Linked DNA regions of Homo sapiens: region 1 is linked to region 2. A link means that fine-mapping ties the variant in region 2 to the expression of a gene that starts in the linked region. Tissue or cell type: whole blood. Region 2 holds a variant in brackets; the other region holds the start of a gene. All regions are shown on one strand. Distances are from middle to middle.

Region 1 (8,097 bases), 160 kb after region 2:
AGCCAGAAGTGACTTCTCTTTCCTCTGCTTTCCTCTATGGGCCTTTCCTCCTTGTGCCTTTAGCTGTGGCCCAAGGTTGAGGGCATCTGTAAAGGTATCCCCTCTCCAGGCGCTTGGCTCCTCAAAGACAGGAGGAGGGGTTAAAATTTAGGGCTTGCAAAGTCAAGTGCCCATAGAGTTGGCCTGGGAGGTAACAGAAGTGATGCATTGGTGTAGGACATTAGGGAGTGGCACCTAGCCACCCAGCTCCCCTCAGTCATCATCTGGTGGGAAGGAGTGCCTAGTGAGGCCACATCTTACGATTCTTCAAGGAAAAGCTCAGTATGTAAATTTATTTATAAAAATGTCCTTTTTGTAGTGTTAGTCATTAAGGAAGTTTTTAGCATTCTGTAGACTCCATAAAACATGTTTGGAGGGCAGCCTCATGGTTTGTGCCATCTGATCTATTAATAGTTTATCTTAGGGATAGGCTGGTGCCTGGGAGGCAGACAACACTGTGGTAAGAGTTCAGATTCAGCATCACCAGGCCTGGGTTTCCTGGCTGTAAACAGGAATGATGATCAGAGATCTTGTCTCCCAAGGCTGTGGTTCTTAAAGTGTGGTCGGGGGACCAGCAGCATCCACAAAACTGGAGAACTTGTTAAAAAAGTAAACTCTGGGCCGGGCATGGTGGCTCACACCTGTAATCCTAGCACTTTGGGAGGCCGAGGTGGGCAGATCACTTGAGGTCAGGAGTTTGAGACCAGCCTGGCCAACATGGTGAAACCCCATCTCTACTAAAAAAATACAAAAAATTAGCCAGGCGTGGTGGCAAATGCTTTTAATCCCAACTACTTGGGAGGCTGTGGCAAGGAGATTGCTTGAACCTGGGAGGTGGAAGTTGCAGTGAGCCGAGATTGCACCACTGTACTCCATCCTGGGTTACAGAGTGAGACTCCATCTCAAAAAAAAAAAAAAAAAAGTAAACTCTGGTCAGGTGCGGTGGCTCAGGCCTGTAATCCCAGCACTTTGGGAGGCCAAAGTGGGAGGATCAAGGCTACAGTGAGCTACAGGGAGGTTGAGGCTGCAGTAAGCTGTGATTGTACCACTGCACTCCAGCCTGGGTGACAGAGCAAGACTCCGTCTCGGGGAAAAAAAAAAAAAAAAAAAAAAAAGGAAAACGTATGTATGTCAGAAAAATGCATATAATATGTCAAATGGTGAGAAAAAGAGGAAAAAATGATGCAAGGAAGTGGTAGGAGTGTGGAGAATTACATTAGTTTTTGCATTGCTATAAAGAAATACCTTCGGCTGGGTAATTTATAAAGAAAAGAGGTTGAATTGGCTCAGGATTCTGCAAGCTGTACAGGAAGTATCGTGCCTGCGTCTGCTCAGCTTCTGGGGAAGCCTCACGTAGCTTTTACTCTTGATGGAACGTGAAGGAATCGGCATGTCACATGGCAAGACAGCAAGAGAGAGGAGGGGAGGTCACAGACTCTTTTATTTATTTATTTATTTATTTTGAGATGGAGTCTCGCTCTGTTGCCCAGGCTGGGGTGCAGTGGCACAATCGTGGCTCACTGCAACCTCCACCTCTCGGGTTCAAGTGATTCTCCTGCCTCAGCCTCCTGAGTAGCCGGGATTACAGGCGCCTGCCACCATACCCGGCTAATTTTTGTATGTTGAGTAGAGACAAGGTTTTGCCATGTTAGGCCAGGCTAGTCTCGAACTCCTGACCTCAAGTGAGCCGCCTGCCTCGGCTTCCCAAAGTGCTAGGATTACAGGCATGAGCCACCACGCCTGGCAGAATATTGTAGTCTCAAATACAATAATCATGGAAGGCCTCCGAGGAGGTGATGTGAGGAGTGGACAGATGAGGTCAGGCCATGAGGGTGTTTTTGAGAAGAGCAAGCCACAGAGTGCACCAGGTCACTCACTTATGTGGGAAGCAGGTGGAGGGCAGATGGTCTGGATACCTGGGCGCAGGGATGGGAGTGGCCAGGAGTGCTGACCTCTCATCTGGCTGCCCAGGGCAAACAGAGAGCCGTGGTCGGCTGCAGGGGGTGGCAGAACTGCGTCTGGCAGGTTTGGAGCTGACAGATGCCTCCCTGCGTCTCCTGCTGCGTCACGCACCCCAGCTGAGCGCCCTGGACCTGAGCCACTGCGCCCACGTCGGGGACCCCAGTGTTCACCTCCTCACGGCCCCCACGTCCCCACTCCGCGAGACCCTGGTGCACCTCAATCTTGCTGGTAAGCACGGTCCCCCATCCGTCCTGCCAGCCTGTGGATCCCCACGGCCAGTGCCAACCCCTTGCTCACCTGCCTGGTCTCAGCTCCACTGCCCCATCCCCAGGTTGCCACCGCCTAACGGACCACTGCCTCCCGCTGTTCCGCCGCTGCCCTCGTCTACGCCGCCTAGACCTGCGCTCCTGCCGCCAGCTCTCACCCGAAGCTTGTGCCCGGCTGGCAGCTGCCGGGCCCCCTGGCCCCTTCCGCTGCCCTGAGGAGAAGCTGCTTCTCAAGGACAGCTAGTTGGGCGCCCCCCACCCTCCCCCGGACTCGACAGGAGCCTGGACCTCCGGCTTCATTTCACCCCTGCTGGGAGGCCAGGTTCCCACCTCACCACCCTGGGATTCCTGAGTGTCAGTGACTTGGGATTCCCACCCAGGGACTCAAGCCAGCCACCCCCTTCTTTCCCCCCTGCACTGATATCTCTGGGGGTTTCTCCTTCCTATGTCCTGCCCCTGCTACCTGCTTCATTGTCCATCCCCTGGGGGAGTGGGTCAGAGGTACTGGAGGGTGCTGAGCCGAAGGGACGGTGGGAGGGGGGTTATGGTGCAAGTGTTGGGGGGGAGAATGGGGAAAGGACACACACAGGATATGGGAGCCAGGGGCTGGGGGAGGTGGAAGGGGCGGGGGGCGGGGCAGACAGCAGACCACCAAGGGTTCAGGGAACAAAGACCAGTTACTTGGAGTGGGGGGTGGGGGTGGGGCCACAAAAGGAAAACCGGAGGAGCAATTGGGGATCCAGGTGTCAGAGGTAGGGGAACCAGGGGCAAGCTGGGGCTGAGCTGGAGGTGGGGATGAGAGCAGGTGTGGGGACAGCAATACCCCCTTGGGGGTCACCTCTCTGCTTCCCCCCTCCCCAGGCTTCAGTTCCTTCCCCCTGACCCTGACTCCTTGAACGTCACTGAAAACGGCAGCTATTGCAAGGAGTGGGGGCCGCGGGCAGCCGCTCTTCAGCTCGCGGCCCAGGGGAGTGGCGAGGGGCGCCCCAACCCCCTGCCCGCCTCTCCGCACAATACTTGAACATTCATCTGTACTGAAGTGTTACTTGAACCGGGGGAATCTCGGACCTGGGGGAGCCGGGGTGTGAGGGGACTGGACCAGCTTGGACTGAGACCTGAGACCGGGCCGGTGGGCGCCCATTTGGGACTGCGCCACCCCCAGGCTTGTTCTTGTTTTACTGTATTGAGCGGCGGCACCCGCCGGACCCGCATTATGGCTGGGGGCGCCAGCCCAAGAATGGGGACCATGGGACTCCTCCAGCCTGGCTCTTCCCACTCTTTCATCGTCATGGAAACTTGTATCCCATTTGCCCAGGGAACTGCCACTCCTGGTTGCCATGGAAATAGCAGCCAACGGACACCTCCCGATGCCAGTGCTAAGGCTGGAAATGGCCCCCTCTTAGTTGCCATGGGAACCTAGTAACAGACTCTGCTGGCCCTCCTTCCCTGCCCCTTCCTCGAGCGCGGGGTGGGGCTTCGGGACCCCGGGGATGAGCCGGGCCAGGTCCCGCCCCTCCGCGCAGGCCTCCGGGGGGCCGGGGCTTACCATGTAGGGGAGGGGAGATCTATCCACATACCTCAGGTAACAGGGAGGTGCGCGGGTGGGGGGAGGGCTGGGCGGACCAAAGGCCGGAGGGGTGGGGCCTGGGGATAGCGAGAGGCTTGAGAATGGGGCCGCTTGGGGGAGGGAAGAGGCAGCCCGGCGAGGGGCAAGCGGGGGACCCAGCCGGGCTGGGCCCCTGGGCCCCGGGTCTGTACAATACGGTTTGCTATAAAACTCAAAATCTTCCAGCCGGGGCTGCGGAGTTCGTGTGTGTATCTGCGGGGTCCCTACCTACAGATGAGTGGGCTCACCTCTCCTGGACTCATTTTGGGAGGGATTTGGAAGTGTGGACACCTGGGGTGTCCAGCTGTACCTTGGAGGGGGCTGGGGTTGGCGTGCACCTCGGTGGGGTCCGGGCGCTTGGATAACGTTCTTGGTGGGTAGGGGTCGCGGGGAATCTCTGCGGGCCCGGGACTGCGGGGACTTGGTCCCCGGCTCCACCCCATCATGTGGCTAGCCCCGGCTCCGCCTCTGTCCCAGTTCCTGTTTTGGCCTCCGCTGTCCCGCTCCGGCTCCTGGGGCTCCCCGCAGACGCTGCTTTTCTTGCTCCACTGGGGGTGCCTCTTCCTGGGCGCCCGCCGCCTGCATCCTGCTCGTCCTGTCTGGGAATGGGGCCGCCCCCGGGCTTGGGCCGGCCCGGCTGGGGCCCCCGAGGCGCTTCCGCCCCGTAGTGACCGCCTGGTGCCGCCCCCCCCCCAGGATGAAGGGCGGCGAGGGGGACGCGGGCGAGCAGGCCCCGCTGAACCCTGAGGGCGAGAGCCCTGCAGGCTCGGCCACGTACCGGGAGTTCGTGCACCGCGGCTACCTGGACCTCATGGGGGCCAGTCAGCACTCGCTGCGGGCGCTCAGCTGGCGCCGCCTCTACCTCAGCCGGGCCAAGCTCAAAGCTTCCAGCCGCACGTCTGCCTTGCTCTCGGGCTTCGCCATGGTGAGGGGCCGGGAGGGGTCACACCCGGTGGGGCAGAGCAAGTGGGGGGCACAGGTCGGGGGGGGGGCGAAGTAAACAGGTCCCAAGGGAGACAGGTTAAAGGGGGCTTTCGTCAAAGGGGGAAGGAACAAGGTCCCGCGGGACTGAGCAAGTCCCTTCTTACGGATGTGTGTGTACAGGGGACCCCAGGAGACGGGGCCACCGGAGGACACGAAAGTCCTAAAGGTGTCGTAGTGGGAGTGGGGTGAACAAATCGCTGGTGGGGTTGACTGCAACAGTGAGGCAGAGTGGTCCAGATGGAGCCTGTACCTGGCAGAAGTGGTTCCTAAGTCCCAGTGCCAGCTTCAAAGGCAGGTCAGCTGGGTGGGGGCTGCATCAACAGGTGGGGGGCTCGAGATGGATTAGCTGGGTGGAAGGGTCACCCAGCTGAAGGTGGGCCCGTCCCAGGGAAGGTGGCCACTCTCCAGCGGGCCCAAGGGGTGCTAGTGTCAACCAGGAAAACTGACAAGAGATCATGCCCGGGAGGGAACCGCTGGGGAAGGAGGCTGATGAGGAAACTGATAAGCGAGTCTCAAGCTGATAAACCCCAGGTGCAGGAGGACGGTGTTGGCTAACGGTCTGCCCCAGCAGTGGCCTCACAGGAAGTGGGATGGAGGGAGGTCCCAGGGTGAGGATCAGCAGACACAGTCCTGGCTCCTCCCTGCTTGTGGCCAGCTGTGTGACCCTGGACAGGCCTCCACCCCGCTTGCAAGCCAGTGGGAAACTGAGATCATGGAGGGTGCGCCCTCTGTAGCCAGCCAAGTAACCGCCCCAGGGTGAGCCAGGCATGTCAGAGCAGGTCACGTACCAAGGATGGCTCAGACTAGCCTGCTAATTGGACAGGTGTGGAAAGTAAAAGCCTTGCCTCTGGGCAGGAGCGAATGAACTGGGACCCAGGGTTGCTGCTCTGTTAGTCTGGGGTTGCCCCACCATCACCCCAGGAAAAAGGAGAAAGTGAGCTGCAGGAGGTACTTTGGGGAACGCACTCCTGTGGGGGTGGATATCAGAGGCGGTTGGGGTGGGGACCATGGCGCTAGGGGATCTGGGCTAGTCCCTGCCCTGTCTGTGCCACAACCTCCATATTTGAACAATGACAGGGAAACTCTCTAACCCTAAGGGTCATCATAAGCCTATGGTCTTCTATGTGGGGTCCCAGAATCCACAGACCAGCTTACCTTTCATGATGGGGGCATCACCTAGGGACAGGATGTTGGCTCCCCTTCATCTGCACAGCCTGCAGAGGGAAGGGAGCAGCCACCCAAGCTGAGGGAGGTCAACCCCATGGTCCAGCCTGTTCCCAAGGAGACAATCCCTCCACGGCAGAATATGCAGGTGCAGGTTGCTGGGGTGACAGCTTAAGGGCCCGAGCCTTCTCTGCAGGAGGAAGGGGCTGGAGGTTTAGGTTCCGGGGGCAGGACTGGCCGCAGTCCTAGCAGGGGTGACCGAGGCTGGGCCAGGCTCTGGGAGAAACCAGGACTAAGCCTGGCCCAGATCCCTGTCTGTGGAAAACACCTCCTGACACCTGCCATGGCCCAATTTCCCAAAATACTCAGCCCTGTTTTCCTACCTCCACCCGCCAGCCTCTACACCTACCTTCTTCTTTCCCCAGGCCCAGAGCAATCGAATGGACCCTACAAGAACCAGGGATGGGGAGAGAGTGGGCTTCTGAAACTCAGGTGGCCTAAGTTAGAATAGCATTATACAAATTGTATCCAGCTGTCACTAAGCACCAGGCACTGCCCTCAGTGCCTTTATATACATCATCTGTTAGCCTACAAAGTGGGTACTGCTACTCTGGCCATTTTACAGATGAGGAAACTGAGGATCAGAGATGTTAAGACACCTGCCCAAGGTCCCACAGCAAGTAAGTGGCAGGATTTGAGCCTAAGCCGTCTGGTTCCAGACTCCAAATTTATAAATTCCTAGAATAGGGTCATCAACTCAAATGTTTGCAAAGGGCCAGGCAGGTAATATGGATGCCAAATTGGCTGGGTAGGGACTAGCAAGCAAGAGACCCCATGACATTGGGGGTGATGGCTCACACCTTTCATCCCAGCACTTTGGGAGGCCAAGGCAGGAGGATCGCTTGAGCCTAGGAGCCCAGGAGTTCGAGTCCAGCCAGCCTGGGCAACATAGCAAGACCTGGCATCTACCAAAAAAAAAAAAAGAGAGACCCCATGACCTTTCCAAGGGGAGCAGCCATGACTGATTTGAGCTGATAGTTGCCATGCAGGAACGCAGGCCAAGTGTGGCTAGTTCTTCCAAGTTTTCAAGGGGATCTGGAAATAGGGATATAAGAAATCTCTTCAGTTTTACAAGTTGGCAGCATCTTCCATTTTTTAAGAAACACACTGTGTGAGCCAAGCAAAACACGTCTGCAAGCTGGCAGTGGTCCACAGTGTGCCGATTTGTAAACTCTGTCCTCAGACTTTAGCATTCACTATAGCAAGAACAGCAAACACATACCTAGTGCTTACTCTGTGCCTGGCACTGTTCTTTTTCTTTTTCTTCCTTTTCCTTTTCCTTTCCTTTCCTCTTTCTTTTTCTTTCTTTCTTTTCTTTCTTATCTTTCTTTTTTTTTTTTTTTTGAGACAGAGTCCCACACTGTCACCCAGGCTGGAGTGCAGTGGTGCGATCTCGGCTCACTGCAACCTCTGCCTCCTGGGTTCAAGCAATTCTCCTGCCTTAGCCTCCCAAGCTCCTGAGTAGCCGGGATTACAGGCGCACACCACCACGCCCGGCTAATTTTTATATTTTTAGTAGAGACAGGGTTTCACCATGTTGGCCAGGCTGGTCTTGAACTCCTGACCTCAGGTGATCCGCCCAACTCGGCCTCCCAAAGTGTTGGGATGAAAGGCGTGAGCCACCACTCCCAGCCCATTTCATGTATATTTCATTTAATGTTTATACCAACCCTATAAGGCAGGGAGGTGCTGTTATCAATCTCTATTTCCAGATAGGAAATTGAGGCACACAGAGAACTGACTTGCTCAAGATTACACAGCTAGAGCAGAGAATGATCCCAGGCAGCCCAGCTCCAGAATCTGCTGTTTGATCCCTATGCAGTAAACCTGTTAGAAGCATGTCATCCAGCCCTTTTTTTTATTTTTATTTTTAATTTTTTTTTGAGACAGAGTCTTGCTCTGTTGCCCAGGCTGGAGTGCAGTCACATGATCTCGGCTCACTCAAACTTCTGCCTCCTGGGTTCAAGCAGTTCTCCTGCCTCAGCCTCTCAAGTAGCAGGGATTACAGGCATGTGC
Region 2 (8,099 bases):
GGAAGAGAAAAAGTAAGGAGAAGGGGAGGATGGATGCTTGTGTGAACACCTGCGGCAGACCCAGTGCCTGCCATGGTGTCATTTCTCTCACCCAGTCCTCCCACAGCCTGGTGAGGAGACCCAGGAATCAGGCTGTCCATTTTACAGATTAGTACATCAATGCCTGGGGAAACCTCTCCAAGGTCAAGGCTGGGAAGTGGCAGAGCTAAGATGATAAAAGCAGGGCTCCATATCTGGCTCACCCCTGTCTCTGAGAGCACGAGGTGACCTTGGGAGTCATGTGAGACTCATGCTCATGGGAGGCTGGCAGGAGACAGGTGATGAGGACAGCTCATGGGGAGCCTGCTGGCAGTGAGAATAGGCTGGAGAAATTCCTGGGACCCAGAGGTTTCCCAGGCTAGAAAAGGAGGAGTTGGACCCAGGGACTAGGCCTGCTGGTCTGCACCCATGAGCTGGAACCATACTCCCCACCAAAGCCCTCCTATCCCCACTCCTGCCCGGACCCTCCTTCTACTCCTTTTGTCCTGCTTTCTTGAGGCTGTTTCCCAAGCCTAGCCTGGCACTGAATAGGTGCTCCAGAAACTTTGTTGAATGAATGAATGAGTGAGATGTCCCTAGCCCCTGGAACACCTGTTTGGTCTAATGCCTTTAAAGATCAGTTTGCAAGGGGATGGCAGCAAAGGAGCAGGAGTTCCAAGTGGCCCCCTGGTAAAATAAATAAATAAATAAATAAATAAATAAATAAAAACAGCCAGCTGTCACTCCAAAAATGGTGAGATGAGTTCAGGATGAGGGAATGGGGCCACAGGAACAAAGCGCTTGAAGGAGGTCCCACACCATTTACACCCTGCAGAGAATCCCTGGGTGGGGCCTGGAAACTTTGGATGGCTGTGTGAGGTGGGCGCTGTGTGCACAGGGGCAGTGGGGCAAGGGAGACATGGCAGGAGGCGCTGAGAGGTGACCAAGGTGAAGCAAGACTGGCTGCACCCTGCCAAAGAGCGGTAGGAGAGACAGAAGTTAGCGTTTAGGAAGTAAATTAATTTCTTCATCTCTGCAGCTACTTAAGCTCCGAGAATCCCCCCTCCCCGCCTGTAAGTGTCTTTGGGGTGGTGGAAGCGGAGACCTCTGCCACACTGGGGGCTGCCTGATGTCCGGTCCGGGAAGGATGCCCTGCTGTGTTTGCTCGGGACAGGTAAGAGTTTGTGGACCTCGATGGTCTCCAAAAAATTCTCCCCTAGTGGTCCAGAGTAGGAGGGAAAGGGTTAATGACAGGGCCGACACAGAGCATGGACGTGGGAAGACCGAGGGAGGCCGAGGCGCTGGGAGCCCAGGCGCCAGGCACGCCAGCCTGAGACCTCGCGATGGCCCCACTGCAGAGGGAGGGAATGAGGAGCCGCCTCCCGAGAGATGTGGGGAACGGCCCAGGGTGACCCTGACATGGAGGCGGCGGGAATGCGGCCGCCCGGCCCGGCCCCCCCACCGCTTGGCTCCGGACTTCTGCTCCCCCGGAGCCGCGACCCCCGTCCCGCTGCTGATACAGAGCCTGGGCATCCGCCCCTGCCCCGGCCCCCGGGGTCCCGGCTCCTTCCAGCACTGCCAGGCTCCTCCAGGGCTGCGCTGGCAGCGCTGGTCCCCGGCCCCGGCCGATCCCTCTTCCCAGAATCCCCAGGCTCCCCTCCCCCGCCACCGACCCCCGCGCTTCCCAGAATCCTCGGCCCTCCGCGCCCCCCGCCCGCCCCCACCCCGGCCACAGCCCCGGGCGCGGGTGGGGGGCTCAGGCCCGGGCTCCCGGCCCCCGCCTCCCGGGCCCCATTGTTCCCCGGCGGCCGTCCCGGGCACTCCAGGCCACCCCCCGGGAACCCAGGCGTCCCCAACTCACGGCTCTGGGGTCTGGGAAAAGCCGGAAGGCGGAATCCAGCCCCAGGGGACTTAACCCCTTCAGTGCCCTGCCTCGGGGGACGGACTGGGCGCCGAGGACTCTGGGGTCCTTCTCAAGGGGTGATTCCAGGCTGAGGACCCGGGGACCAGTTCAGGGTGACTGGGACGGAGCAGGAAGTGACCCCAGCTTCCCGGGCCCCTCTAGCCTGGAGTCAGAGCATCAGCTCTATGGGATTTAACCCTTTGCCTCCCGCAGCCTGGGGAAAAAAGGGGACAGCGGTGGGAGCAGGGAGGAGGCTGGGACGACGCCCCTGTCCCCGTCTCCAGTGGGAGCAGGCAGCGTGGGCATCTGGGAGAGCCCCGATGCCCGCGAGGGTCCCTGGGCTTCTGGCCGCTCTTCATTTCGCAGGGGCTCCGCCGGCCGCGCCCGGAAAGCCCTATCTCAGATTTGGCGGCTGCTGATCCCCTGAGGCCAGTCTTTGTTTGGACTAACCCTGGGATGGGGCTGGGGTGGGAGCAGGGGCTGGCAGAGCAGACCTGAGAGGGAACACCCTACGCACTAAACATGGCCTTAATGCTTGATGGAAGTCATGGCTGCAGGAGTTGGGACTGCAGGAACAAGCACAGCCGGGAAGGATTTGCAATAGCCTGTGTTCCAGCCCCTCTTCTCCAAACACCTCCCCTCAGAGGAGGAAACTGAGGCTCACGGTGGCAGGAAAGAAGCCAGTGGGGGTTCCCTGGCCAAGGAGGGAGAACCTCTTTTCTCATAGCTCAGAGGGCACCCGGCTCACAGCAGAAGAAACCTTTAAAAACCCAGGAACACTGGTGGCCTCTCAACGTCCAAGTTATCTATGCTCGCAATTTTTACAGCCTTTCTTTCTTGTCTTCCTTATCACAGTCCCATGGGATAAGGTTGCCCATCATCCCCATTTCACCGGGGAGGAAACCAAGGTGTGAGAAGCGACTGGTGTACTTAAGGCCACCTGATTCTTTCAGTTCAACACACTGCATTATTATTCCTGGGCACTGTGGTTAACACTGGGGTGGGCATACCTCTGAGATGCATGGAAATTGGGCTTTCTACCCTTGGGAAGTTTGGTATTGTGTATGTGTTACAAACACAGAGGAATCCTGGGAGCGTGCAGAGGGCTCTGTCCAGAGACTGAGAGGCTGGGGGGAAGAATAAACCAAAGGTCAGAAATTACTAAAGGCAGCTGGGTGCGGTGGCTCACGCCTGTAATCCCAACCCTTTGGGAGACCAAGGCAGGCGGATCACTTGAGGTCAGGAGTTTGAGACCAGCCTGGACAACATGGTGAAACCATGTCTCTACTAAAAATACAAAAATTAGCCAGGCGCAGTGGCTCATGCCTATAATCCCAGCACTTTGTGAGGCCGAGGCAGGCAGATCGCTTGAGCCCGGGAGGCAGAGGTTGCAATAAGCCAAGATTGAGCCACTGCACTGCAGCCTGGACGACAGAGTGAGATCCTGTCGCAAAAAAAAAAAAAAAAAGAAGGAGGGAGGGAGGGAGAGAAAGAGAGAAAAGGAAGGAAGGAAGGAAGGAAAAGAGAAAACAGGAAAGAGAAAAAATTGCTAAAGGCCAGGCCTGGTGGCTCATGCCTGTAATCCCAGCACTTTGGGAGGCTGAGGCAGAAGGGTAACTTGAGCCCAGGAGTTTGAAGGCTGGGCAACATAGTGAAACCCTGTCTCTACAAAAAACTTAAAAACAATTAGCTGGGCAGGGCGCGGTGGCTCATGCCTGTAATCCCAGCACTTTGGGAGGCCAAGGTGGGTGGATCACCTGAGGTCAGGAGTTCAAGACCAGCCTGACCAACATGGAGAAGCCCCATCTCTACTAAAATACAAAAATTAGCCCAGCGTGGTGGTGCATACCTGTAATCCCAGCTGCTTGGGACGCTGAGGCAGGAGAAGCGCTTGAACCTAGGAGGCGGAGATTGCAGTGAGCTGAGATCGTGCCATTGCACTCCAGCCTGGGCAACAAGACCAAAACTCGGTCTCAAAAAAAAAGAAAGACAACAACAACAACAAAAACAAACAATTACCCTGGCGTGGTGGTGCATCGCTATGGTCACAGCTACTTGGGCTGAGGCAGGAGAATCACTTAATTCTGGGAGGTGGAGGCTGTAGTGAGCCATGATTGCACCACTGCACTCCAGCCTGGGTGGCAGAGTGAGACCCTGTCTCAAAAAAAAAAAAAAAAGTCCGGGCAGGGCACGGTGGCTTATGCCTGTAATCCCAGCACTTTGGGAGGCCAGGGCGGGCAGATCATGAGGTCAGGAGATTGAGATCATCCTGGCTAACATGGTGAAACCCTGTCTCTACTAAAAATACAAAAAATTAGCCGGGAGTGGTGGCACATACCTGTAGTCCCAGCCACTTGGGAGGCTAAGGCAGGTGAATCTCTTGAACCTGGGAGGTGGAGGTTGCAGTGAGCCGAGATCATGCCACTGCACTCCAGCCTGGGTGACAGAGCGAGACTCTCATCTCAAAAAAAAAAAAAAAAAAGATGGTTTGGCGAGGTGGCTCACACCTGTAATCCCAGCACTTTGGGAGGCTGAGGTGGGCAGATCACTTGTGGGCAGGAGTTCAAGACCAGCCTGGCCAACATGGTGAAACTCTGTCTCTACTAAAAATACAAAAAATTAGCTGGGCATGGTGGCGTGCACCTGTAATCCCTGTTACTCAGGAGGCTGAGGCAGGAGAATCACTTAAAACCCAGGAGGTGGAGGTTGCAGTGAGTCGAGATGGCGCCACTGCACTCCAGCCTGGGCAACAAGAGCAAGACTCAGTCTCAAAATAATAATAATAATAATTTT[A/T]AAAAAAATTAGGCCGGGCGCAGTGACTCACGCCTGTAATCCCAGAACTTTGGGAGGCCGAGGCAGGCGGATCATGAGGTCAGGAGATCAAGACCATCCTGGCTAACACGGTGAAATCCAGTCTCTACTAAAAATACAAAAAATTAGCCGGGCATGGTGGCAGGCGCCTGTAGTCCCAGCTACTTGGGAGGCTGAGGCAGGAGAATGGCGTGAACCTGGGAGACGGAGCTTGCAGTGAGCCGAGATCGTGCCACTGCACTCCAGCCTGGGCGACAGAGCAAGACTCTGTCTCAAAAAACAAACAACAACAACAACAACAAAAAACACACATTAAAAATTGCCTGGCATGGTGGCTCATGCCTGTAATCCCAGCACTTTGGGAGGCTGAGGCGGGAGGATTACCTGAAGTCAGGAGTTCAAGACCAGCCTGGCCAACATGGTGAAACCCCATCTCTACTAAAAATACAAAAATTAGCTGGGGCTGGCTGGGCGCAGTGGCTCACGCCTGTAATCCCAGCACTTTGGGTTGCTGAGGCAGGCGGATCACGAGGTCAGGAGTTCGAGACCAGTCTGACCAACATGGTGAAACCCCGTCTCTACTAAAAATACAAAAATTAGTTGGGCATAGTGGCGCACACCTGTAATCCCAGCTACTCAGGAGGCTGAGGCAGGAGAATTGCTTGAACCCGGGAGGTGGAGGTTGCAGTGAGCAGAGATCGCACTACTGCACTCCAGCCTGGGTGACAGAGTGAGACTGGACATAGTGGCATGCACCTGTAGTCCTAGCTACTCTGGAGGCTGAGGCATGAGAATTGCTTGAACCCAGTTGGTAGAGGTTGCAGTCAGCTGAGATCATGCCACTGCACTCCACCCTGGGTGACATAGTAAGACTCTATCTCAAAAAGAAAAAAAAATTAAAAATTGAATTTCTTGCTTCTTTATTGATTGATTGATTGATTGAGACAGAGTCTCGCACTGTCACCCAGGCTAGAGTGCAGTGGTGCAATCTTGGCTCACTGCAAGCTCTGCCTCCCGGGTTCACACCATTCTCCTGCCTCAGTCTTCTGAGTACCTGGGACTGCAGGCGCCTACCACCACAACCAGCTAATTTTTTTGTATTTTTAGTAGAGACAGGGTTTCACTGTGTTAGCCAGGATGGTCTCAATCTCCTGACGCTGTGATCTGCCCACCTCAGCCTCCCAAAGTGCTGGGATTACAGGCCTGAGCCACCGCGCCTGGCCTGAATTTCCTGCTTCTTTGGAAAATCCAAAGATGTGGCAACGTGATCCACATTTTCACATGTCAGTAACTGGCTGTTGCTGGGCAGCTTGCGTCTTTACAGGGCACTGACCTGCCAGCTGGTCACCATCCCTGTCATTCCTCTGTGTCCCCAACCCTGAGGCCAAGGTGGCTTCATTATATGAATGGTCCTTCACTGCTGATGTTCCAACTCCCGTTTAACTGTAGGTATAGATTCTGGACCCCTTAGTCTGTGTCTCCAAGGTTCAGAGTAATTTTTTATTTTTAGAGACAGTGTCTTGCTGTCACCCAGGCTGGAGTGCAGTGGCACGATCATAGCTCACAGCAGCCTTGAATTTCTACGCTCAAGCAATCCTCCCACCTTAGCCTCTCAAGTAGCTGAAGCTACAGGTGCGTGCCACCATGCCTGGCTAACTTAATTTAAAATTTTTTTGTTCCTCACAAAACTTCTTCCTGAATAATTTTTTAAATATTTTTATAGAAATAGGATCTCACTATATTGCCCAGGCTGGTCTCAAACTCCTGGATTCAAGCAGTCCTCCCATCTTCACCCCGCAAAGTGCTGAGATGATGGGCATAAGCCACCACGCCCAGCTCCAGAGTAACACATGAGGATGGTGCCTGCTGACATAGTTACATTTATTGAGCACTTATGCACTAGGCACTGTGTTTGCATGTAATGACTCCTTAAACCTCCACAACTCATGGCACCATTATTATTATCATCCTGGGACAGAAAGGGTAAGTCACTTGCACACAGGTCACCAGTGGCAGGAGTGGATTTAAATCCACGCACGGTGACTTCAGAGCCACCGTGGATCCTAAACACGTCTCTCCTGCTCAGATGGGCCCAAGCGTGTCTGGGACCCAAGGGTGAGCCTCTCAGTCCCTCCGTCTTCTCCCTCAGAGTTGGAGAGAGGAGCTGGGAAGGGCAGGGCACCCCCATTTGGGCCAATACATCCTCCAGGAAGAGTCTGGGTGTCCTGCTCCTAGGGATATAAAGGCTGCCATGTCCTCTTGCCCTCAATCAGCTGGCATCGCAGCCATGGCAGCAACCTGCCTGGCAGGGGAGCTCTTGCAGGGATGTAGAGGATCCCACCCCCACACCTGTCATGAACAACTCACCCAATGCTCTTCTCTTTGTTTGTTTGTTTGAGACGAGTGTTGCTGTGTTGCCCAGGCTGGAGTGCAGTGGCACGGTCTCGGCTCACTGCAACCTCCACCTCCTGAGTTCAAGGGATTCTTCTGCCTCCCGAGTAGCTGGGACTACAGACACATACCACCACGCCCAGCTAATTTTTGTATTTTTAGTAGAGACGGGGTTTCACCATATTGGCCAGGCTGGTCTCGAACTCCTGACCTCATGATCTGCCTGCCTCGGCCTCCCAAAGTGCTTGGATTACAGGCGTGAACCACCATGCCCGGCCCAATGCTCTTCTTAGTTATGGGCCTTATGCCCCGAGGGGCTGCAATAACAGTGAGTTCCTGGCCAGGTGCGGTGGCTCACACCTGTAATCCCATCTCTACTAAAAATACAAAAATTAGCTGGGCATGATGGTGGGCGCCTGTAATCCCAGCTACTTGGGAGGCTGAGGCAGGAGAATCACTTGAACCCAGGAGGCAGATGTTGCAGTGAGCCAAGATCGTGCCACTGCATTCCAGCCTGAGTGACAGAGCAAAACTGCATTTCAAAACAAAAAACAAACAAAAAAGTGAGGTCCTGGAGGTAGACCCGGGTCCAAACCTGCAGCAGCACTCCTTTCGAGGGGGCACCAGCTGCGGGGAGTCTGTCCCTTGCAGACCCCTGACCTGGCGATGGATGAATAAAGTATAACGGCACACAGATACTCTGCTCTGCCACTCCAGCTGAGGGTCCAAGCCGCTTACAGGCTCCGTGCTGAGTCCTGTAAACAGTTGCGACTGCGACCCTGATCAGCTAGTCAGACTCATATTTATTCAGTAAGATTAATTAACAAAAGCTTGAGTCAACACCATTAGAAGGTAATTGACATTGCGGACTTCCCGATTAAAAAGCACTTAAGCATCTGGTACATCAAAAGTTAGTTTTAAGATCGAATGAGTAAAGAAGCTAGCTAGGTAAACTACTCTGCCTTTATTACTACTT

Evidence for each region. PIP is the estimated chance that this variant, and not a neighbour inherited with it, causes the effect.
Region 1: it holds the start of ORAI3, and the variant in region 2 is fine-mapped to the expression of ORAI3 in whole blood (TOPMed, PIP 0.97).

What each region holds. Positions count from the first base shown.
Region 1 is chr16:30,944,720-30,952,816 of GRCh38, forward strand. ORAI3 (ORAI calcium release-activated calcium modulator 3) reads left to right here and starts at 4,349. Exons shown (of 2, transcript NM_152288.3): 1 at 4,349-4,798. The coding sequence starts at 4,571. It overlaps FBXL19 (F-box and leucine rich repeat protein 19), which reads left to right. Exons shown (of 11, transcript NM_001382779.1): 10 at 2,011-2,229; 11 at 2,333-4,064. The coding sequence ends at 2,511. RefSeq lists silencers at 3,775-4,024, 4,395-4,654, 4,695-4,744 and enhancers at 4,668-5,186, 5,475-5,704, 5,705-6,222.
Region 2 is chr16:30,785,149-30,793,247 of GRCh38, forward strand. It overlaps ZNF629 (zinc finger protein 629), which reads right to left and starts at 2,057. Exons shown (of 3, transcript NM_001080417.3): 1 at 1,880-2,057. RefSeq lists an enhancer at 2,007-2,126. The variant A/T (reference allele first, on the strand shown) is at 4,715.